4 linked regions of the Homo sapiens genome follow. The protein of the gene in region 3 purifies or fractionates together with the protein of the main gene of each other region. This does not show direct contact. Each region holds a gene or a part of one and is shown on either strand. Other genes may lie near its edges. The genes, in order: DEFA5, TMEM169, CCDC102A and KCTD9.

Region 1 (5,624 bases), on a different chromosome or scaffold from region 3:
GAACCAGCCCCTACCACCTATCTCCCAGTAAAGTGGAGAGCTCTCACCAAGGACCATCAGATGAGGAAAGGCAGCACCAGCCTGCACTAGCCTGGTAGGTTCTTTAATATTGGAAGGACTTTGGGGCACAGAGAAAAATCTCACCACTATTTACACTAAGTTTAAACCAGTTCTTGAGTATTAAATATTGATACAAAGGTGATTATTTAAATTCCCTTCATCTATATTGATGTAATACATTTAGTATGCCTAATTGTTTTTAAACACATCTAATACCTTAAAGAATAGATAAACATATTCCTGAAAGACAATCACAAACTTATTCATTCATTATACCAAAAATGATACAGAAGGGCCCATATCATGGATTTGACATCTTTTCTCATTTGTTTTGAGTTTACTCCTTCCTATGATTTTTGTGATCTTCCGAGACCCCAAATGACTAAACGAGGTTGCAAGTCTAGGGCCAAATAGCTGACCCTTGATCAGGAAACAGTGCTTTGCATGTGTCTAAGATGAATCAAACCCAGACTACTTGTTATTTATTATCAGGCTGAGACTTTTTGTTGTTGTTGTAATAAAAATGTTTGGTTTTTTTTGTCATGTCATGACACTGTTCAATCCCTGTCTTTTATATAAATTTTAATTCTAGAAACTTGTTTTTCTCACAAATACGTCGTTCTTAAGTTTTTGCATAGCCCTAAGTGTATGGCCAATTTTCTTATCATTATGATGTATTGACTTGGTTCATTGGCATAATTAAAAACATATTAACATATATTTTCTCACTAGCATTTTATTAAAATGAGTATAGCTTTATTATAATAAATAGAGTTCATATGCTTGAAGGGATGGAGAGTTGAGACCAACTCCTTCATTAAACATTGGTCTAATTAACCTTTTGGGGACCAGTGAGGGACCATTTGTCTCATTGGTTATTGGGCCTCGTCCTCTATGGTCACCAGCTTCTGAGCTCCTCTTCTATCTGGTTATTAATTGAGATCACTGATGCTTGTCAGTCTTTCTTGTTTTGGGCACAGTTTTAACTTTTTCCTTAGTAAACTTTATTTTATTCTATCTTGTTGATACAGTTATATATCACCAAAACAGAGTGAAATAAAGCTTAATGTAAAGTGTATATATTTAACACATCTGCTTAAAATTTCAAAAATTATGTATAGCAATGCTTTCCCACTTTTTAAAATTAAAGGACAAGTAAACATAGCCCATTAGATCTATCTTTCCTTTGAGCCAACAACCACTTTTTGCCTCTCATTGTAAACTTCTACTTTTTGAGTATCATTAGGAATGCATTGAATTTTTAAGTTTCAAACTATTCCAATTAACACTTATATCCTGTCAGGAATGGTGGCTCAAGCATGTAATCCTAGCACTTTGGGGGGCTGAGGAGAGCAGATCACTTAAGCTCAGGGGTTCGAGACCAACCTGGGCAATATGGTGAAACCCTGTCTCTACAAAAAAATACAAACCATTAGTAGGGTGTGGTGGCACATGCCTGTAGTCCCAGCTACTCAAGAGGCTGAGGTGGGAGGATCATTTGAGCACAGGAGGTCAAGGCTGCAGTGAGCCGAGATTGCACCGCTGTACTCCAGCTTGGGTGGCTAAGTTAGACACTGTCTCAAACAACAACAATAAAAAACCCAATTATATTCATTTTTGTTATTTTGTTATTGCTCTATGATGCTCAAATTGTGCATCATTGGAATGCAAAGACCAGTTAACTTAATGTAGATCAGAATTCTCAATACAAAGGAACCATACAAACCACCATATAACAAAGCAAAAGAAAAAAAAGGAAAAAGAAAAGAAAATTAAAAAGGTCAAACACACTAAGTTTAATGCTTGAACTTTATTTTGGAGAGAGAAATTTAGAAAGACACAAGGTACACAGAGTAAAATGTTTTTCTTTTTTCAGGACCTTGAACTGAATCTTGCACTGCTTTGGTTTCTATCTAGGAAGCTCAGCGACAGCAGAGTCTGTAGAGGCGGCCACTGATTTCACACACCCCGGAGAGGGACTCACGGGTAGCACAACGGCCGGTTCGGCAATAGCAGGTGGCTCTTGCCTGAGAACCTGTGGAAAGAAGAGAGGGTCAGGCACAGCGAGGGAGGTGGGAAAAAGGACAAGCACAGCCAGACTAACTGAGATAGTCTAAATAAGAGACACTGTATCAGTCATGTTAGGATGGAGAAAATTCATGTCTTTGTCGTAAGTGACAAGAAATCTTACTAGCTATGTGTTAGTCATGCAAGATCATAGTTTTTTTCCCCATGTGAGTCTATCCAGGATGTATTTATTACCTGCTCCCTGGTCCAACAATATACCTCTCAACCTCAGGGTTACCTACTCTTCATTCTGCTTCATCCACACGCCTAATCTTGACCTCCATGTGTGATTTCCAGGTCCTAACAAGGCTCCCTAAAGCACCTGAATCAGTTTCTGAAATGCCGCATTGTGCATGCTAATGTCATGGACCAAATACTTTGGTGCTCAAGGAGTCTTTGAAGACTTTCCAAATTCAAATTCTTCATTCTCTGTCTCTCCTTTTTTTTTTTTTTTTTTTTTTTTTAACATTTTACATATTTACTTGTTTTAATTGACAAACAATAATTGTGTATATGTATGAGACACAATATGATGTTTTGATCTAAGGATGTATTGTAGAAAGATTTAATCAAGCCTATTAGCCTACATCAAAACACACCTATAGGTTCCTCTCTAGGTTCTAAAAGCTTTTCCAATGGACAAAGTAAAACACTCTCTATATAACTAAGTCTGCCCATTTAGATCTACAAAGAACTAGTCAGTGTAGCTCTTTCTATCTTAAAAGTAGCAAATTTCACAGAAATATCTTGGAACTGAAAGTCTTAGAAAAAAGAAAATCTTTTAGATTTATTTGGTTCTCACTGATTAATTTATAGATGAGAAAATCAAGGTCCAGGAAGATTAAGTAAAGTCACTCAAGTGAGGTAGACCTTTCCACACTTGACTCCAGATCCTTTCTCCAATCCTTTTTTTCTAGATTTTGCAGATGTGCAAGATTGATGTCTCCTACCTGAGGTTCTAAGAGCAGAGAGTCCATTTCCTGCAAAGGAGATAGCAAGGTCCTGGTTGTCTTCCCCAGACTGCTTCTGGGTTGTAGCCTCATCAGCTCTTTCCTGGAGTGACTCAGCCTGGGCCTGCAGGGCCACCAGGAGAATGGCAGCAAGGATGGCGATGGTCCTCATGGCTGGGGTCACCTGCAGGAGGGAGAGCAGGAGTGGATATGTGGGGAGTGAGGAGTCAGCCTGGATTTATAGCTCTGCTGGGAGAAGACCTGAGACAGAAGCTGCAGTGAGAGGAGGTGGGCATGTGATTGGGAGGGGAAGGACTGCCTTTGTTCTCAAGATCCCTTTGATGCTCCTCTTTCTCCCAGCTTTCATCAAAGCGTGAGTCTGTATGCTTAATGCCTCTTCTTGATCCAAGGTGTTAATGATGATAAGGGTATTACTATCCTGTTCTGTTTCCCATCTGCTTGAGTATTTACTTTTATATATTCAAAAAAGAAAAACAACAGCGCTTTCATTCAAGAAGTTTGGGGATCAAATGCCTCTTGTTTTCTGAAGATGGTCCCTGGTACTCTCTGGATGACTCTCTGGGGGCAGACCTGGGACTCAGTGGAGTAGAGAGTTAATTCATTGCAGGATTCAGGGATATTACTAACCTCATGTAGGAGGCTTTTGAGATCTCGAGGTGAGTAGTCTCCCGCTGGTGCCAGTATGGAGAGGTCAATGACCTTATCAGGCTATAGGGGAAATGAGTTCAGTAAAATAGTAGGCCAAGTTTATCAGATTAAAATAAAAATTCGGATTTAGTTCAAGGAGTTGGTGTGATCTGAATGCATCACATAAAATGTGTAGCGGGTACTTCTCTCCACTTTGGGGAATATCAAAGTAATTTAGGTGCGTACAGCCCCTTTCTGAGATTTTTTTTTTAGTTTTAGAAAATTGTAAATCATGCACAAGGAACAACATTCAAAAGGTAGAAGTCATGAGCTCTCATTTCTACCCCCAGGCCTTCAGTTCTGACCCAGCAAACCATCACTATTAACAGTTACACATAGTATTCTGCACTTCGCTTTTTTCACCTGTAACATTGGCACTTTGTATATCAAAATACATGGAATGCTATTATAATTTTAATAGCCTTATACTATCCCAGGGTTTGTATATGCCATCACTTATTTTTTGTACTGATAAAATATTATAAAATTATTACAATTTGGTTATTTTTAAACTTTTGCAGTAATAAGTAAAGTTACAGTGATTATCTTGTATATATGTTCTCTTACCTATATGGATAAACTTATAGAAATAGAATTGCTGTGTCAAAGAATGCATCTTAAGCCAGCATGGTGGTACATGCCTATATTTCTAGCTATTTGAGAGGCTGAGGTGGGAGGATCACTGGAGACCAGGAGTTCGATACCAGCCTAAAAACATAGTGAGACCCCTTTCTCTTAAAAAAAAAAAAAGAGACTATATCTTACACATTTTTAAGATATTACTACATATTTCCATAATATCACCATATTTGATCCAAATCCTTTGGGGCTCAGTGGGCCCTTGGAGAGTCTCTATATTTGAATTCCTCATTTAATTTTTTTCAAATTTATTTATTTATTCATTGAAAAATAATTTTCTGTATATTTGTAGGGTATGATGTGACGTTTGGATTGATATCCACATGGGAGAAACACATAAGCTAATTAAGATAGCCATCACCTCACCAACTTAATTTTTTAAGGAGAATTACAAATTGATTCCTTTAGCAGTTTGAAAGATACAATACATCACTATTAACTGTGGTCACCGTGCAGTGCCATAGATCACTAAGACTCTCCAGCATAACTGAAACTTTGTACTCTTGGCTCAACATCTTCTCTTTTCCTATCTCACCCACCTGCAGCTTCTGATGACCACCTTTGTACTCTAGTTCCATAAAACTGACATTTTAACATTCCATGTGTAAGTGATATCATATAGTATTTGTCTTCCTGTGTCTGGTTTATTTCGTTTAGCACATTGTCCTTTGGTTCCATCCATGTTGTCATGAATGAAGAATTTCCTTCTTTTTTTTTTTTTTTTTTTTTTTTGAGACGGAGTCTTGCTGTCGCCCAGGCTGGAGTGCAGTGGTGCGATCCCGGCTCACTGCAACCTCCGCCTCCCAGGTTCACGCCTTTCTCCTGCCTCAGCCTCCTGAGTAGCTGGGAGTACAGTCGCCCGCCACCATGCTCGGCTAATTTTTTTGTATTTTTAGTAGAGACGGTGTTTTACTGTGTTAGCGAGGATGATCTCGATTTCCTGACCTCGTGATCCGCCCGCCTGGGCCACCCAAAGTGCTGGGATTACAGGAGTGAGCCACCGCGCCCTGCCAATTTCCTTCTTTTTTAAGGCTATATGGTATACCATCTTGCATGTATACCATATTTTCTTTATTCATTCATCCACTGATGAACATTTAGGCTAATTCCATATCTTGCTTATTTTGAATAATGCTGAAATGGACATGGGAGTGCAGATTCTTCTTTGATACAGTGATTTCAATTTCTTGGGAGATATAC
Region 2 (6,021 bases), on a different chromosome or scaffold from region 3:
GAGACCAACCTGGACAACATGGTGAAACCCAGTCTCTACTAAAAATACAAAAACTAGCCCGGCATGGTGGCACATGCCTGTAGTCCCAGCTACTCAGGAGGCTGAGGCAGGAAAGTCACTTGAACCCAGAAGGTGGAAGTTGCAGTGAGGCGACATCATGCCACTGCACTCCAGCCTGGGTGACAGAACAAGACTCTGTCTCAAAATAAATAAATAAAAGGTGGTAATATTGCAAGAAGAAATGTATCACCAAGAAGAAATAGGACAGTGAGCATATGCCTGTCTGTTCTGGAAGATGCCCTTTTGGTTTCCTTCCCATGGCTTTAAACAAGTGGGCTAGAGAGACTTACCATCATCCACAGGATAGTCTAGGAAATCATCTCCCTCCTCCTCTTTAGGCTGATCTCCACCTTCTGATTCTCCGGGCTCCTCATCTGTTTTCTCATTGTCTGAGCGGTAGATGATGATGGATTCTGGGCGTGACTCTTTCCTCTTCTTTTTCCTGTGCCCCATTGTGGATTCCCCATCCAGCGCCAGGGCAGCAGCCACAGCCTTCCTGAGAGAGCCCTGGTGGGGGCTTGGAAGCTGGACCTGGCCTTCTACTGCTGTTGGCTCTTCCATTCCAGACCTGACGTCTACCTATGTCTTATAAAGAGTTGGACTTGTTTGAGTAAACTCACAGTTCACACATCACAGAACTTCTTCCTAGATGGGGCTATGCAAAGATGTCCCAAGGATGCATTCCACCTGAAAGATAGGAAAGCAAAGCCATCAACAGGAAGCAAATGGGGTGAGATGGACAGGAATGTGGGAAACGATCCTCAACTTAGCAGAAGCCTTCCTCTCCCTTTACTTCTTGCAATACTTTATTTTGGGAATGCAATCTAAATCTCTTATAATAGACAGTGAATAAACTTTTGCTACAGTAATATTTTTGTCATTTATACAAACATATAATATTTGGCAAAACCCATGTGAAGGAATACTATATCTCATTGTTGTCATAATTTGCATTTTCCTTATTCATATGAAAGTCAACAATTATTGTTTCTTTATTTTATATACATAAGTAGTTAGCATAGTCTGCTTGTGTTACCGATTTTTGTGTATAAATCAGCCTCTAGTTGGAGCATGCAGAGTATAAGGAAGTTGGGTGAGGAAGCCTTACCAGTAGGTGAGAGTTAAGAACCACAGGTAGGCTGGGCACAGTGGTTCACGCATATAATCCCAGCACTTTGAGAGGCCGAGGCGGGTGGATCACCTGAGGTCAGGAGTTTGAGACCAGCCTGGCCAACATGGCAAAACCCCATCTCTACTAAAAATACAAAAATTAGCTGGTTGTAGTGGTGGGTGCCTGTAATCCCAGCTACTTAGGAGGCTGAGGCAGGAAAATTGCTTGAGCCTGGTGAGCTGAGATTGTACCACTGCACTCCAGCCTGGGTGACGGAGCGAGACTCTGTCAAAAAAAAAAAAAAGAAAGAAAAAAGAACCATAGGTGGCTGGGACCAGTATTCCAGACTTCTGGCTATTGAATCATACATTAAAACTATACTCAAATGGATAAATACAACATTAAGCAAGCCACTCAAATGGTACAACCTCACCAACTGTGTCTACCTTGCTATTCTGTAAAGGAAATCTGTCTCCTGGCTTCTTGTCAGCCCACAATCTCAAAAAGTTACTGGGATGTGTCCTATCACGTGCTGCAAGAGCGGTGGAGAGGCTTCACTTTCCCCCTTAAAATAACAGTGTCTCTCCACTTTCTGTTCTGGACAGTGCAGGTCTGTATATCTGTCCTTCATTTTTTTTTCCTGGTAACTTATTTGTTAAAGAAAGCGGGTCATTTATCTTGCAGATTCTCATAGCCTGGGTTTTGCTGATTGCATCCCCACAGTGTGTTCCTCTGAACTCTGTGTTATGAGTTGATAGCTAAATAGAAAGTCTTGATCAATTTCACATTGAAATTTTTTTGGTTGATGGTTTGTTTTGTTTGGCAGGACAATTTTAGAGGTGGTGTTTGTACTTCCATTAGAAGTCCCCTAATGTCTGGTTGACTCTTTTTGTGAAGTTAACAGCCCGTTAATGGCCATTGACTATACCCATTAAATCATGGGGGTTACAAAATGATATTCCATTTCTCTGACTTCTTCATTTATTAGCTAGAATACTCTCATGCACTTTTAACATACCCAGTTTTAATCCTAGTGAAAGAGGCAAATGGTCCTGCTGTTATGCAATATTATTGGCATTTATACTGTGAAAAATAACTTATGAACTATAGTGGTACCCGCTATGGATATAAAAAGTTTCCAAGCGATTTACCAAAAAATTCCCCACTTTTCAAATAACTGTGCATATTATTCAGAATCGCAAGCTTCTACTCACAACCCTGCCGCCCCACACTCCTCGAGGCTGTACACTCTTCAGCAACTCCAGGTTACTGGCTGTTACTTTTGTTCCCAACTCCCAAATCCCTCACTGTATTTCAGTGCTCTCTGAGCCTTATTTTACTGCCACATGTACACCATTTGCCATCCCTTTATTTCCAATAATAAAGCTTCTTCTCTCATGTGTATTCAAATGTTCCCAATGTCTAGTGTTCTGGCCCAGTGGATGGGAGTGGGGCAGTGGAGAGAAGAAAGAAGCAAAAATTCCACTAGGCTCTAGAATTCCACTAGGCTCCATTCATTTTGAAGCAAATTTATATATCTTTGGTAATTACCATGTGACAGGAAGTACTGTATAGCATATCTCTTAAAATGCCAGAATACATATTTTTTTTTCTCATTTCAATGTTTCTAAAATTTAGGTAAATTTTAAGCTCAATGGAATGGCTTTTTCTCCCCCTCCAGGCAGGGGAGTTCTCCTCTGCTGCCCTCTCACCCAGTATTTCCTCTAGCCTCTGTTGATTTTCTTTGTCTTTCCATTGGATTGGCAGATGTTGGATCTAAATTAACTTTATAACTGGGCACTTAACCCAATGCCTGGAATAAATCAGGCACCCAGCGACACAATTGAGAATCTTAGTGGTAGGATCCACAGGATGAAATGGGCAGGTTTCACTACGTCCTCACTGCCTGACTTTGTCTAGGGGGTGTACTAGGGGCAGAATGAAAGCCATTATCTTTAAATTCTTATCCATGGAGCTTTCTGGACCAGGAGATTCATTTGGCTGAGGTGTCTAAAAGTACAAGGATGTACACAGGAAGAAGCAGGGGAGAGAGCCCTCCCAAGGTAAATAGCTCCAGAGGACAATTAATCCAACCATTAGAATGCTGAGCAGGCCTTGGGCATTGATGAGCTTGACCAGGGCTCTTCTACCAAAGTGGCTTCTACACAGAGGACAGTGGACCTCTACCCAGAGGAAACTGAATGGGGAGGCTGAATGCAATCCACCCCCAGGTGAAGATTTTATATGTATACACACACACACACACACACACACACACACACACACACTTCATTATTACGTTAAGTTCCAGGATATACATATATATGTATATCTATATATGTACTTATACATATGTATATTTATATACAAATGTGTATATACATACATTTGTAATTCTACTCTCTAAGTGTCTATGTTTAATACAAAAATGTTTTCCCTGGTCCAAGTCCTCTTATACACTGACACTCAGAAAGCTGCATCATGGTAATTCTATGGTAGGAATGACCTCTGAACAAACCACTTTGTACTTACTTGAAGGTGCAATGATCACAGCTTGGGAGGCCACCCTAATCCACCGTGTTTTCCTACTTAGATCATCTGTTTCTCTCTGTTGTTTTCTGAGGCAGCTTGTGAAGGGCCTTCTTTGGCCCTTCTATACAGCATGAATTTTCAAACTAGGGGTTGAGACCCCGAGGAGATTAAAGGACCAGAGCTTCAGAGCTGGGAGAAGGTTTATGTTCTGTACTCCTTACTCCTTCTTTAAAGATGTACCAAGATGTTCAGAAGGGAGACAGAAATGTTAAAGAGTACACGTGAGAAGGCAAGTTGCAAATCTCATACTTCTTGTTCCCTTTTCCTCTCTCTTTGTTGAGGGGGTGGTGCTCTAGGAAGATGTGGCAGGGCAAAGTGAACACATGCATGGAGATGATGACCCTTATTAATGGGCCTTATAAACATTAAAAAGTGGCCAAGTGCGGTGGCTCATGCCTGTAATCCCAGCACTTTGGGAGATCAAGGCGGGCGAATCACTCAAAAAAAGAATTAATTTAATTAAAAAAAAACATAAAAAGGTGTAGTGTTCGACACTCTTGATTTGGTTGGGCACAATGGGAGAGGCCAATGTTAGATAACAGGAAGAGCTTCCTGAGCCCAGGGACAGACTAGTACAGAAAATAGTAGCTAAGAGAAGCTTTGGAGTCTCTTGGGGATATAAAAGATAAACATGGTCATCTTGTTGGCTGATGGAGGAGAGGGACAATCCTATCAGAGGCAAAAAGAGAGATGACTTTTGAACATCCCATTAAAACCTTAGACAAGAAATATGAAATGTAAAGGGTGAGCTCCTGGCTATTCACCTTAGGGGGGCTATTTTTGCTTCAGGCACAGCTCATTTTAGAAAGGTGCCCAGCCAATGTCTACTTACAGTAGTCACAGGACAGAGACACTGTCCTTGATTTACCTTGAAACATGATTTCCTCATCTCCCTACAATTAGAACACTATCCTTTGAGACTACAAAACATTCCCACAAACTTAGGAAAAGATGGGTTATTTTGTAGTCATGGTAAGTAGACAATAGAACCAGTTTTAAACCTGTTCAATTGATCAACAACAATCTCCCTCAGTGTCTTAGTGCATTTGGGCTGCCATAAGAAAATACCATAGACTAGGTAGCTTATAAACAACAAGAATTTATTTTGTACAGTTCTGGGAGCAAAAAATCCAAGATCAAGTTTAGGGGTTTGGTAGGACTCACTTTCTGGTTCATAGATGGTGCCTTCTCACTGTGTTTTCACGTGGCTGAAGGAGCTGACTAGCTCTCTGGGTCTCTCTCTTTTTTTTTTTTTTTTTTTTTTTGAGATGGAGTCTCACTCTGTCGCATAGGCTGGAGTGCAGTGGCGCAATCTTGGCTCACTGCAACCTCTGCCTCCCAAGTTCAAGCAATTCTCCTGCCTCAGCCTCCCAATTAGCTGGGACTACAGGCACACGCCACCATGCCCAGCTAATTTTTGTATTTTTAGTAGAGATGGGGTTTCGCCATATTGGCCAGGCTGCTCTCAAACTCATGATCCGCCCGCCTTGGCCTTCCAAAGTGCTGGGATTACAGGTGTGAGCCACTGAGCCTAGCCTCTGGGTCTCTTTTATGGGGGCACTAATCCCATTCCTGAGGACTCCACCGTCATGACATAAAGCCTCACCTAATGCCATCACTTTGGGGGCTGAAATTTCAACATATGGATTTGGGGGGAAAACAAACCATACCATAACACTCAGCAAACATGTTTTTGGAAATTAACCCATCCAGTCAGTCCTTTGTTTCTGAAAGTCAATCAGGTGAGTGGCTCTGTCCCTGTTTGGCTGACTTTCACACTAGTGTGAGTTGACTTTTGGCCAATCAGGGTCTGGCACTCTGATGATGGCTTTCAAAAATGTATTCACTTAGGCAGTTGTTGATTGAACATGTTTAAAACTAGTTCTGGTGGCTACTTGTTATCAAGGCTACTGTAAAAACAGTGTTTTCCTAAATTTGGGGATCCTTTTTACTGTTAGTTTCCTGCAAGTCTGGAATATATCAGATGTCACAGTACAAGAATATGAATTATCTGTTGTGATGTAACAAATTACCCAAGAAGTAAAGGTTTAAAACAATAAAAAAGTTATTATCTCACACAATTATGTGCGTCAATAAACTGGGAGTGCCTTAGCTGGGTGGTGAGTAGTCTTCTCTACCTGCTTCCTGCCTATAGAATTTGGAGGTCCAAAAGTGTTTTTTTGTTTTTATGGTTTCTGAACCTTTTAGTATTCTGTGAATAGAATTTTCTCAACATTTCTGTGGGATTCCTATAAATA
Region 3 (6,021 bases):
GTCCTGGTGCGCCTCCTTCAGGATGCTGAGCTGCAGGGATAAGGCCCCACCTGGTCATGAGAACCACCAGGATATAGCCTGGAACCACCTCCGGGGGTGGGCGCCAGTGCAGGAGTGCTCAGCGTGGAGCCAAGGCAGCGCCCAAATGGGGCAGGCACCAGGTATTCCAAACAGACCTCGAATCTGACCACTTCTGCTCCTCCCAATGTCTCTCCTCCTCATTACTGTCTAGCCTCCCAGTGTCTACTCCTGGCCCTTCTCTGTCAACCCGTTTTCTACAACAGCAGCCCAGAGGGAGCTTTTAACAAAGATGAATGCAATCATACCACCCTCCTCCCACAAAGCCTCTGATGGCTCCCAGGTGCCTTAGGGTAAAGTCCAACTCCTCTCTACGCTCTCACAAAGCCCTGCACGATTGGACACCTACCCGCCGCTCCCCCTTAGTTCACTGTACTCCAGGCACCAGGGACTCCTTTCTGTTCCTCAGACACACCAAGTTCCTGCCCACCACAGGGCCTTTGCACATGCGTGGATCTTTCTGAGACACTTCTTAGGACTGATTTTTCTTATTCTCAGGCCTTGACCTAAAGGCCCCCTCCTTAGGAATGCCTCTTCTGCCCACCTGGCCTGGAGGAGGGGCCTCCTCATCCCACTCCCCACTGGAAAGCTAGCCTGGGAGGACGGGGAGCTTGTGCGTCTGTCCACCTTTGTGTCGTTGTATGGCCTGGGCACAGGGCCGCCCTCAGTGTACAGTGACTAATTCCAACACTGCTCTGCACACAGGTGCATCGGCATTGCTTGGCGTGCATTTAAGACAATAACATTTCTTGCGGTATACAGCAAACCCCAACAAACTGCTGCTCCCTGTAACACACGGATGAGTTTTCAACACATAATGTTGAGGGAGAGACACCAGATACAAAAGAGAACCTTTATAATTTTCTACTAAATTGTACATTTGTGTTTCATTCGCTTTTCTTCGAATGATTATACTTCATAATTTGAAAAGACTAAAAGAACAGGGTCCTGGACCCAGCCCTGAAAGGTGCTGATTCAGGAGGGTGGAGGCGAGGTCTGGGAATCTGTATTTTAGGAGATTTCCTCAGAGATTCTCATGTAAGACCAGTCTTGGTCCCCTCCAGGACAGTTTCAGGCTCTAAAGTTCTGTGATCCTCCCAGCTGCTAGAAACCCACCGATCCAGTGTGGCGTTCCCTGGGTGGCTGCGCCCTCTGGTGGCCATTGAGGCCTGCACAGGAGGCCGTAGTGGCAGCTCAGCCTGCTCTGAGCCCCCACACTGCAGTGGTGGATTCCCTTCTCTGGAGCCTCAGTTTCCCTATCTGTAAGATGGGGACATGAGGACCCAGCTCCCTGGGCTGCCATGAGGCTTCAGTGACACCTAGTACAGATAGGAACCCAATGAATGCCACATCCAGCCTCCTCGTCTTCATCCTGGTCTACAAGGCCCCCTCCTGCGGCCTCGCCTCTCACTTCCTGCTCTCCAGCCACCTGGCCCTCCCTGTTTCCCGCACACGCTGGGCTTGTTCCTGCCTCAGGACCTTTGCACCGCTGTGCCTTCTGCCAGGAACACTCTCCCCTGTATCTTTTCAAGGACAGCTTCCTCTAGCCCCTTTAGGTCTTGCCTCAAATGCCACCTTCTTAGGCCTTCCCTGACCTACCACCCCATCTCTCTCATTCTGTTTTGACTCCTTCATAAATTATGAATCTGCCTGGTGACTGTCGGTCTCCCATGCCCACAGCCCCCACAAAGTGAGCTCCTGAAGGCAGGGACCTTGCCTGCCCAGCACTCAGAACAACTCAGAAAAAATAACATAACATAACATAACATAACATAACATAACATAACATAACATAACATAACATAAATAAAATAAAATAAATAAAATAAAATAAAATAAATAAAAATAAATAAAATTAAAATAAAATAAAGCCAGGCACTGTGGCTTACACCTGTAATCCCAGCACTTTGGAGGCCGAGGCAGAAGGATCACTTGGGTCCAGGAGTTCGAGACCAGTCTGGCCAACATGGTGAAACCCTGTCTCTACTAAAAATACAAAAATTAGCCGGGCGTGGTGGCGGGTGCCTGTAATCCCAGCTATTCGGGAAGCTGAGGCAGGAGAATCGCTTGAACCCGGGAGGTGGAGGTTGCAGTGAGCCAAGATCACACCACTGCACTCCAGCCTAGGTGACAGAGCAAGACTCTGTCTCAAAAAAAAAAAAAAAAGAACAACTGTTGGATGAATTAATGAATGAATTCTCTCTTCCATCTCCACTACTGAAATTCAACAGCGCGATCCTGCCGCCTCCAGGAAGACCCTCTGGTCTCCAAGACTCACCTGCTTGAGCATCTCCTGCTTGGTCTTGCTCAGCTCCTCATACTTGATCTTCCACTGGCTGAGCTCCCCCTCTAGCTTCTCAATGTTCCTGCTCAACGCCAGTTTATCCCTGGGGAAGGGACAGACATGGGGGTGAGCCCACCAAGGCCCTCTGCTTGGAGTCCTCACCAAGGGTGGCCCTGCTGTGTGCCCTCTGCACTTGTTGAGCCCAAGTCCAAAATCCTTGCCTTGGTATTCAGGCCCAGGCACCCTATGTGGCTAGAAGCACCCTGGCTTTGCAGTTCTCCTGGAACTGCATTCCCTATCCAAGTGCAAGTGCCCAGCTCACATTGTGGGGAGGTGGTCGGGGTTCCAGAGCACTGAGCATCCCCGGGCAAGTACCTCTCTCCTGCTGCACCTCAGGCTCATCTGAAAATGGCTCCAGGAGGTGGCGGCCCCAGCACTGGCCACTCCACTCCTTGGCCCACCTTGTTCTTCTCGAAGAGCTGTCAAAGACCACCCTGCTCCTGTCTGTTTTGTAGACTATGTTCCCTGCAAGGCTTGGTCTGAACACATGGTTCTGCAGATAGAAACACTGGAAAACACTGTCCAGTGACCCGAAGAGAGGGTTCTCTCTTGCCATCGACACTGTGTGGGATCCCTACATCCTCCCATAACCCCCACCCTGCCTTGATCTTGAATAAGGCACTGTAGGTAACAAGCATGATGCCTGGCCCTGGCAGAGTAGGTGCTCACCAATGGCTGAGCTCAGCATCACCTTCCAGCACGCTGCCCTTCATGACCCCACACCACACTGGCCTCTCTCTCTGAAAGTGGAACACTCCATGCCTCCAACATGGGGTTCCCAGAGGGGACAACGTCACCCTGTAGGAGGCATGTTGAAAACCCATGGCAACATTTTTGGCTATCACAATGATTAGGGGTCATTTAGTGGACGGGGGCCAGGGTGCCTGACTCCCTGCAATGCCCTGGGCGTCCTGCCCATCAGGATGCATCCTGCATCCTACTGAATGCATGCACAGCCCACTGGACATTGCTCGGGGTAGAGATGATCTGAGCCTACAGCCTCATTCTGATTTACATTGAAACAGAAAGTAATTTTTATACTAACATACACTGAATTTTCTAGGAATGGAATCACTGTATAAACTGAAGGAAGACTGCACTTTTCTTTGTTTTTAGAGAGAGGATCTGGCTCTGTTGCTCAGGCTGGAGTGCAGATCACAGCTCACTCCCTGGAACTGCACTCCCTACCCAAGTGCAAGTGCCCAGCTCATATTGTGGGGAGGTGGTCAGGGCTCCAGAGCACTGGGCATCTCTGGGCAAGTACCTCCCTCCTGCTGTACCCCAGGCTCATCTCTTAAAGACTACCCTGTTCCTGTCTGTTCACAGCTCACTGCAACCTGGAACTCCTGGACTCAAGCGATCCTGCCACCTCGAGCTCCCAAAGTACTGGGATTATAGGCATGAGCCACGGTGCCCGGCTGCACTTTGCTTTGTTCAGAACTTTACCAAAGGCTGTTCATCTCTCAAGAAAGCGCATCGCAGTGACACCACTTGTGTCTTTGAGTTGCTAAGTCTGCACACCTGCATGAGCCGCCTTTGTAGCTGTCCTGCGAGGTGACTTAAATGTGCAGATACATGTAAGCCTTCAACACAACACCTGACTCGGAGCACATGCTATGTCTTTGCTGTTATAACTATCGTCACTATCATCCCATTTAAAGACACCCACTCTGACCACTTCACCATTTCTTCTAGAGGAGCTATGCCCAAGCACTCCCATATCACAACACGTGTATTTTAAGTTACTTTCAGGCTGGGCGCAGTGGCTTACACCTGTAATCCTAGCGCTTTGGGAGGCCAAGGCAGGTGGGCTCCCTGAGCTCAGGAGTTCGAGAGCAGCCTGGGCAACATGGTGAAAACCTGTCTCTACTAAAATACGAAGAATTAGCTGGGCGTGGTGGTGTGTGCCTGTAGTCCTAGCTACTCGGGAGGCTGACACATGAGAATTGCTTGAACCAGGGAGACAAGAGATTGTAGTGAGCTGAGATAGAGCCGCTGTACCCCAGCCTGGGCAACAGAGCGAGACTCTGTCTCCAAAAAAAAAAAAAGTTACTTTCACTTCTACTTTATATTTCAGTTAGTGCACTAGGTTGATTTTTTTGCTTGTTTGGCTTAAACAGTCTAAATTTATTCTCTCATATTTCTAGAGGCTAGAAGTCCAAGATCAAGCTGTTGGCAGGACTGGTTCTCTGAGGGCTGCGAGAAAGAATCCGTTCCATGCCTCTCTCCCAGCTTCTGGCAGTTTGCTGGCCATCTTTGGTATTCCTTGGCCAAAGATGCAACAATGTCCGCAAAAGCATCACCCTGACCTCTGCCTACATCTTCACAAAGGCATTATAGTGATTTTTTTTTTTTTTTGAGACAGCGTCTCTCTCTGTCACCTAGGCTGGAGGGTACTGGTGCATTCATACAATCACAGCTCCCTCAGCCTCGACCTCCTGGGCTCAAGCGATCCTCCCGCCTCAGCCTTCCAAGTAGCTGGGACTACAGTGGCACAGCCCCGTTCCCAGCTAATTTTTTTTTTTTTGTAGGCCAGGCACAATGGCTCATGCCTGTAATCCCAGCACTATGGGAAGCTGAGGTTGGTGGATTACCTGAGGTCAGGAGTTCGAGACCAGCCTGGCCAACATGGTAAAACTCCGTCTCTATGAAAAATACAAAAATTAGCCGGGTCTGGTGGCTAATTTTTTAGCCACCCTCTGGGTTGTCCCCTCTGGGAACCCCATGTTGGAGGCGTGGAGTGTTCCACTCTCAGAGAGAGAGGCCAGTGTGGTGTGGGGTCATGAAGGGCAGCGTGCTGGAAGGTGATGCTGAGCTCAGCCATTGGTGAGCACCTACTCTGCCAGGGCCAGGCATCATGCTTGTAACCTACAGTGCCTTATTCAAGATCAAGGCAGGGTGGGGGTTATGGGAGGATGTAGGGATCCCACACAGTGACGATGGCAAGAGAGAACCCTCTCTTCGGGTCACTGGACAGTGTTTTCCAGTGTTTCTATCTGCAGAAACATGTGTTCAGACCAAGCCTTGCAGGGAACATAGTCTACAAAACAGACAGGAGCAGGGTGGTCTTTGACAGCCCTTCGAGAAGAACAAGGTGGGCCAAGGAGTGGAGTGGCCAGTGCTGGGGCCGCCACCTCCTGGAGCCATTTTCAGATGAGCCTGAGGTGCAGCAGGAGAGAGGTACTTGTCCGGGGATGCTCAGTGCTCTGGAACCCCGACCACCTCCCCACAATGTGAGCTGGGCACTTGCACTTGGATAGGGAATGCAGTTCCAGGAGAACTACAAAGAACATGCGCCAGAGGCATGGTGGCACATGCCTGTAATCCCAGCTACTCAGGAGGCTGAGGCAGGAGAAACACTTGAACATGGGAGGCAGAGGTTACAGTGAGTCGAGACTGTGCTACTGTACTCCAGCCTGGCTGACAGAGTGAGGCTCTGTCTAAAAAAAATATATATATATATAGAGAGAGAGACAGGGTCTTGCTGTATGGCCCAGGTTGGCCACAAGCAATCCTCTTGCCTCGGAATCCCAAAGTGCTATGATTACAGACATGAGTCACTGCACCTGGCCATTATATTGATTTTTTAAAAAGGAGTG
Region 4 (6,021 bases), on a different chromosome or scaffold from region 3:
CCTCGTGATCCAACCGCCTCAGCCTCCCAAGTGCTGGGATTACAGGCATGAGCCACCACACCCTGCTAAGTTTTTTGCTTTATTTTGTTTGTTTTCCAAATTTGTTACAATGAACCTATATTACTTTTGTAATAAGGGGGGAAGTTTTAATTTATTTTAAGGTCTCCATAGCTCCAGATACTAGTTCTATAAATAAAATTATTTTAGCAGTTTGCAATCAGGCAGTTAACAATTTCCTTTAAGTGAAATAACCAAAGGGTGGTCAATTAGAGAAAACAGAATTAAAATTAATACGAAGAATCTTATAGTTCTAGAAATTTGAAAATTTCCCTTAAGTTGGGCCAATATACTTGTTTTCACTTGGAGGGCTATTCTTGACGTTTGTTTTCCAACTAATCATTCGCACATACTAACAATACCATACAAATAAAAAGGAGTTATGTTGCAATACTAATATTCAAATATGCAAAAACTCTGTATTTTAAACTAATTAGAAACCAGGTTTTAAAATATATATATCAACATAAATTTGTCATACATATGGAAAAGATGATTAAGTTACGGAGAAAGTTGCAAACAGACTGGCACATGCATTCTTCTTTATATAACTCTTTTGAGAAAGAGGAGCAATAAAAATCTTGTATATCATGGACATAAGCTCCAGTTAGTATATACTAAGATTGTTTTTGTCCTCATACTGAGCCAAATAAATCATAAAATGATAGTGCTTACAAAGGTCATTTACTTTGTATGTGTTATCTCCACCATGTGGCCTGATGTTTCCATGTCACTGGGATTATCTACCTTAACAACTTAGGCCCTAAGAATAGAAGCATTTTACATTTATTGAGAAGCATGTCTATTAAAGTTCATGATGTCTGTATTATACTACTTTTCAGAGTCAATTATTTTTAAATTTCAGATCCCATGACAAGTGAAAGCTGCCTATGAGTTGGAGAGTAAATGGAACACCATGCCTAGTACGATTGGCTAGTTTTAATTTACCTTTAAACACCATTTTCAAATTGTAACCTGTATTATTTAAATTTAAAAATTAAAACCTGCACATGCATGTAAAATATTTTTTTCTTTTATACCCACAAGATTTATTACATAATACACAATAAATACACAAGTATTTGTGTATTTGAATTCAACTTTTATTGCCACTTTAATCAATCCTAATAAAGTATCAAAAACAATTTACCATATCACTAAATATTTTCTAATCTGGCTGTCTGCCTGGATCCTAAAGGTCCAATAAAAAAATTAATTTGCAAAAAGTTGTTATGATAAATACACAAGTATTTATTGTGCATTATGTAATATACAATACACATAAATTGTTGAATTTATGCAGGCTGATTTACCCAACAAAACCACTAATCACCACTAGTAACTAAATACAGAACTCAATTTTCTCTACCTATACTTTTAGTCAAATACATTTTAAATATTTACATGATCTTATTCTTTAAAAGATGAGATAATTTAAAAAAAAGATGAGATAATTAACTCTAAGGTGAAAAAAGAAAATTTTAAAATGGAAAATACTGGTAATATCAAGTGTTGGAGTGGATGTGGACCAATAGGGAAGATTTATGCAATGGTGGTGGGAATATAAATTACTGCAATGACTTTGAAAAACAATCTGGCATTATTTTGCAAAACTGAATATTTACATATTCTAACACCCAATAATTACAACTATGTGTCTATACCTTAGAGTGGTGGTTCTCAAATGTGTGATCCTGTCACCTGCAGCATCTGAACCACATTTCACCTGCAAATTAAAAATGTACATTCCTACCCCACCCCAGACCTACTGAATATTAATCTTTGGGGATGAAGTCCAGCAGTTTTCTCAAGTCCTCCTCCTCCTCCAAGTGACTCTGATGCATGCTAAAGTTTGATTAACTACCTCCCTAGAAAAATGCTTGCTGCTGTGTGCCAGGATACATATACAGAAATATTCATGACAGCACTGTCAATTTAACAACAAAATATAAAGAAAATAAACAACCTAATGTCCACTGACAGGAATATCATGGTAGTATTTGTATAACATGTACTTTAATAAAGCAGTAAAAATGAATAAATTATCACTATGTCAGATATTATGGTTGGAAGAGAATTATATTGAACGAAAAAAGCAAGGACTGGCCTGGCATGATGGCTCATGCCTGTAGTCGCAGCACCTTGGGAGACTGAGGAAGGAGGACTGCTTGAGGCCAGGAGTTTGAGACCAGTCTGGGCAATATAGGAAGACATTGTCTCCACAAAAAACTATATACAGTATAATATCAATTTGAGATACCGTATGTCCCGAAGCTGATTTTTTAAAAATGTAACTTAGTGGCTAGGCAGAGTGGCTCACGCCTGTAATCCCAGTACTTTGGGCGGCTGAGGCGGGCAGATCAGGAGGTCAGCCGAGACCAGCCTGACCAACATGGTGAAACCCCATCTCTACTAAAAATACAAAAATTAGCTGGGAGTGGTGGCACGTGCCTGTAATTCCAGCTACTCAGGAGGCTGAGGCAGGAGAATCGCTTGAACCCAGGAGGCAGAGGTTGCAGTGAGCCAAGATCGCGCCACTGCACTCTAGCCTGGGTGACAGTGCGAGACTCTGTCTCAAAAAAAAAAAGGTGAGGGCCGGGCACGGTGGCTCAAGCCTGTAATTCCAGCACTTTGGGAGGCTGAGGCTGGCGGATCACGAAGTCAGGAGTTTGAGACCAGCCTGGCCAATATGGTGAAACCCTGTCTCTACTAAAAACACAAAAATAGCCAGGTATGGTGGCGGGCGCCTGTAATCCCACCTACTTGGGAGGCTGAGGCAGGAGAATTGCTTGAACCCGGGAGGCGGAGGTTGTATTGAGCCAGAGATCATGCCACTGCACTCCAACCTGGGCGACAGAGTGAGACTCCGACTCAAAAAAAAAAAAAAAAGGTAATTTAGTTATGCATATATATGTGACAAAACTATTTAAAAACACACGGCAAAGAGAAAAACAAAACAGGAGTACAGGAACGTGGATAAACACATTATGTTATTGATAACATGCTACTTCTTGGGTTATCTGGCAGATTTACAGATGTTTGCTATATTATGTTCCTCTTTTTATGTATATTCTTTATTGTATTCTTTTCTATGTATCAAATATATTAAGAAATGTTCAAGCTTAAAAAGTGGGCCCTCACTAGGTTCTTATTAATGTTTAGCCTTCAGAGGCAGAGGTTCAGATAAATTTTCACCTTTCTCCAACTCTAACAACGTAATGGATTCAAACCTGGATACTTACTACTAACAACATATTTCTTTTTCATTCTTTGTTGTTGTTGTTGTTTTAGAGATGGGATCTCACTATGTTGCCCAGGCTGGTCTTGAACTCCTGAACTCAAGCAATCCTCCCATCTCAGCCTCTCAAAGTGCTGGGATTACAGGCATGAGCCATTGTGCCTGCCCCCAACATGTTTCTGACCTAATACCAAAACCTGAAGAAAAGTTATTTCTTGGACCAAGAATGAAAACACGGTACAGAATGAAAGTATTTCCTACCCTGTTTGCCATGTTTGGCATGATGCCACATACTCAGAAGGCATTTACTAAGTGTTCACTGAATGAATGAATGAATGAATGATGAATTAATCAGTATACAAAAGGCCTAGGACTTGCACAGCTCATTATTGAATATTCTGAAGTAAAAAAAGCACTCTGTGTTCAAGACGTATAGAAACTCTGCACTGACATTAAGTTGCTCAGAAGCCACACACTGCATGCAGATGTGCAAGTCCCCATTTCAATTTCCTTAATGCCAACTCTTACAGGGAATATTAAAAAGAATAACGAAAATGTTGAGGCACATGGAAAAAGGATGACAGGTACAAACAACATAACTGACTCTTTCGGAGCAGTTTTAAAAAACAAAAACAAAAAAAACCCTCAAAATTTAAACCAAAGATTCCAGTGATTAGAACTAAGGCCTTCAAATGTTTCTGACCACACACCCCATTGGTAACATACTTTTGGGCATGTACTCAAACATCTGTATATTTATGTATTTATGAACTACATTCCACTGTTAGAAAGTACATGTTTTCCCAAATGATGAGGACTTTCAGTGACTCAGACTATGAATTAGCCACTAAGAATCTCCTAAATATTTATCATTAAATTTAGTGAAATTCTGCCAAATACAGGATTGACTTTAAACATTAAAATAAGCCGGGCATGGTGGCTCACGCCTGTAATCCTAGCACTTTGGGAAGCCAAGGCAGGTGGATCACATGAGGTCAAGAGTTCAGGATCAGCCTGGCCAACATGGTGAAAACCGTCTCTACTAAAAATACAAAAATTAGCAGGGCATGGTGGCAAGCCCCTGTAATCCCAGCTAAGCAAGAGGCTGAGTTAGGAGAATCGCTTGAACCTGGGGGGCAGAGGTTGCAGTGAGCTGAGATCACGCCACTTCACTCCAGCCTGGGTGGAAGAGCAAAACTCCGTCTCAAAAAATAATAATAATAAATAATAAATAAATAAATAAAAGTAAAAAACAAACAAAAACCAAAAAATCAGAAAAGAAAAAAATCTGAAGCCATTTGTCTTCATGCACTAGAACTTATTTCTAAATATCTTGCTAACTAGGATGACTCATCCTATCAATGGCTAATATTTCAAAGAATAACATACACTTAGGGAGAGGCTGATTATTAATAGCAATTAATAAATAGGACTTCAAATATTCTTCTTTAAAACTCAGCACTGTTTCAACTTCTCAGGTCCAAAGAGACCCACTCTTTTTTTAGTCTCATGGTTTATACATACTAGGAGAAGTGGCAGCTTCTGCCATTTCCTCATTGTTTACTTGTGCTTGCATAATTAATATTGTCTCAAGCTGCAGTTTCTTTGAAGTAATCCTTTAAGATCACTTGGCATTTTGGTGAGGGTTAATTTGGTTAAAACTAGATATAAATCTTAATGTGCCGGTTGTAAGCTTCCATATCACAATGTCAATGACAACCAATCTGTGAAGAAGACACTATTAACCTTTTCACATGTGAAGGCCGTCCCTTCTTACAGGAGACCTGAGACCAGCTGAATGTTCAGTGACTGGAGGCACCTGTGTCTTTCTAGATCGGAAAAATCAAGTTTTCACATTATTTTATATTTTTAAGTGTAAGATATAAACAAAAGGTATATTTCTTCCTGACCTCCAATAAATCGTCTTGGACACTGTCTGTGGTGTGTCATCTCACTCCAGAAACCACAGTTTAGAGAATGCATAGCCCTCTCTCCAACGTCAAATACGTCCACCACTAGTTACATTCATTCAATACACAGACAATTCCTGGCGAGCATATAACACAGCACCTTGGAAGAATTCTGTGCCTCTCCACGCCCTTCCCCAGGCTTCATAGTCTCACAGTCTGGTAACTACTAAACAAGCTATGAGAGGGAAACTTACTTGAAAAAACAGAGATTATTCTTATAACCAGGAAACAAAAGCAGAAGCGAGGTAAGGGAGATAAAGTAAGTGGTACAGATATTCCAACTGGTGGATGGGAAATCAAATTCTATTCTATTTGAGTAGCACTTTTCCCAGCTTATTCTTAATGAACATTCATGTCATGATCATGCCAATCCAATTAGTCACTTTATATATAAAAATGCAAGCTGTTATGTATTATGCAGCTCTTTTGTCAAATAAGAATAATTATAAATTTTTTTAATCAACTGAAGGGAGAGAAAACACTGCCAACGTCTTAGAATATGTTCATCAGCTGAGCAGTGAAGATCATGGCTTTGCTTCTTTTTATCTAGTACTCTCCAGTTTGGATTTTTACGTTGTAACATAAACATATTTATATTTAATTATTTGAGATGCATTTTCCCCAATCTTCTGAGATTCTCTAGCAGAATATTTTTAAAGTAAATAAAATTTAAATCCAAGAATCTAATCTAGTCAAAACTAGATAGCTTAAAAAAAAAATCCGTGTGAACAACAATATGGAAAGACCAACTCAGTT

The links.
Region 1: the proteins of CCDC102A (region 3) and DEFA5 purify together in Homo sapiens (co-immunoprecipitation; one large-scale study listed by IntAct). This does not show direct contact.
Region 2: the proteins of CCDC102A (region 3) and TMEM169 purify together in Homo sapiens (co-immunoprecipitation; one large-scale study listed by IntAct). This does not show direct contact.
Region 4: the proteins of CCDC102A (region 3) and KCTD9 purify together in Homo sapiens (co-immunoprecipitation; one large-scale study listed by IntAct). This does not show direct contact.

Annotation. Positions count from the first base shown.
Region 1 is NC_000008.11:7,053,449-7,059,072, forward strand, and holds DEFA5 (defensin alpha 5 preproprotein), read right to left. Parts: upstream 3,292-5,624; 5' UTR 3,250-3,291; coding exon 3,078-3,249; intron 2,096-3,077; coding exon 1,983-2,095; 3' UTR 1,856-1,982; downstream 1-1,855. UniProt on the Homo sapiens protein: Host-defense peptide that maintains sterility in the urogenital system.
Region 2 is NC_000002.12:216,090,564-216,096,584, reverse strand, and holds part of TMEM169 (transmembrane protein 169), read right to left. Parts: intron 748-6,021; 5' UTR 622-747; coding exon 351-621; intron 1-350.
Region 3 is NC_000016.10:57,518,712-57,524,732, forward strand, and holds part of CCDC102A (coiled-coil domain-containing protein 102A), read right to left. Parts: intron 2,466-6,021; coding exon 2,357-2,465; intron 31-2,356; coding exon 1-30.
Region 4 is NC_000008.11:25,450,724-25,456,744, forward strand, and holds part of KCTD9 (BTB/POZ domain-containing protein KCTD9), read right to left. Parts: intron 2,853-6,021; exon of another isoform or gene 2,821-2,852; intron 1-2,820. UniProt on the Homo sapiens protein: Substrate-specific adapter of a BCR (BTB-CUL3-RBX1) E3 ubiquitin-protein ligase complex, which mediates the ubiquitination of target proteins, leading to their degradation by the proteasome.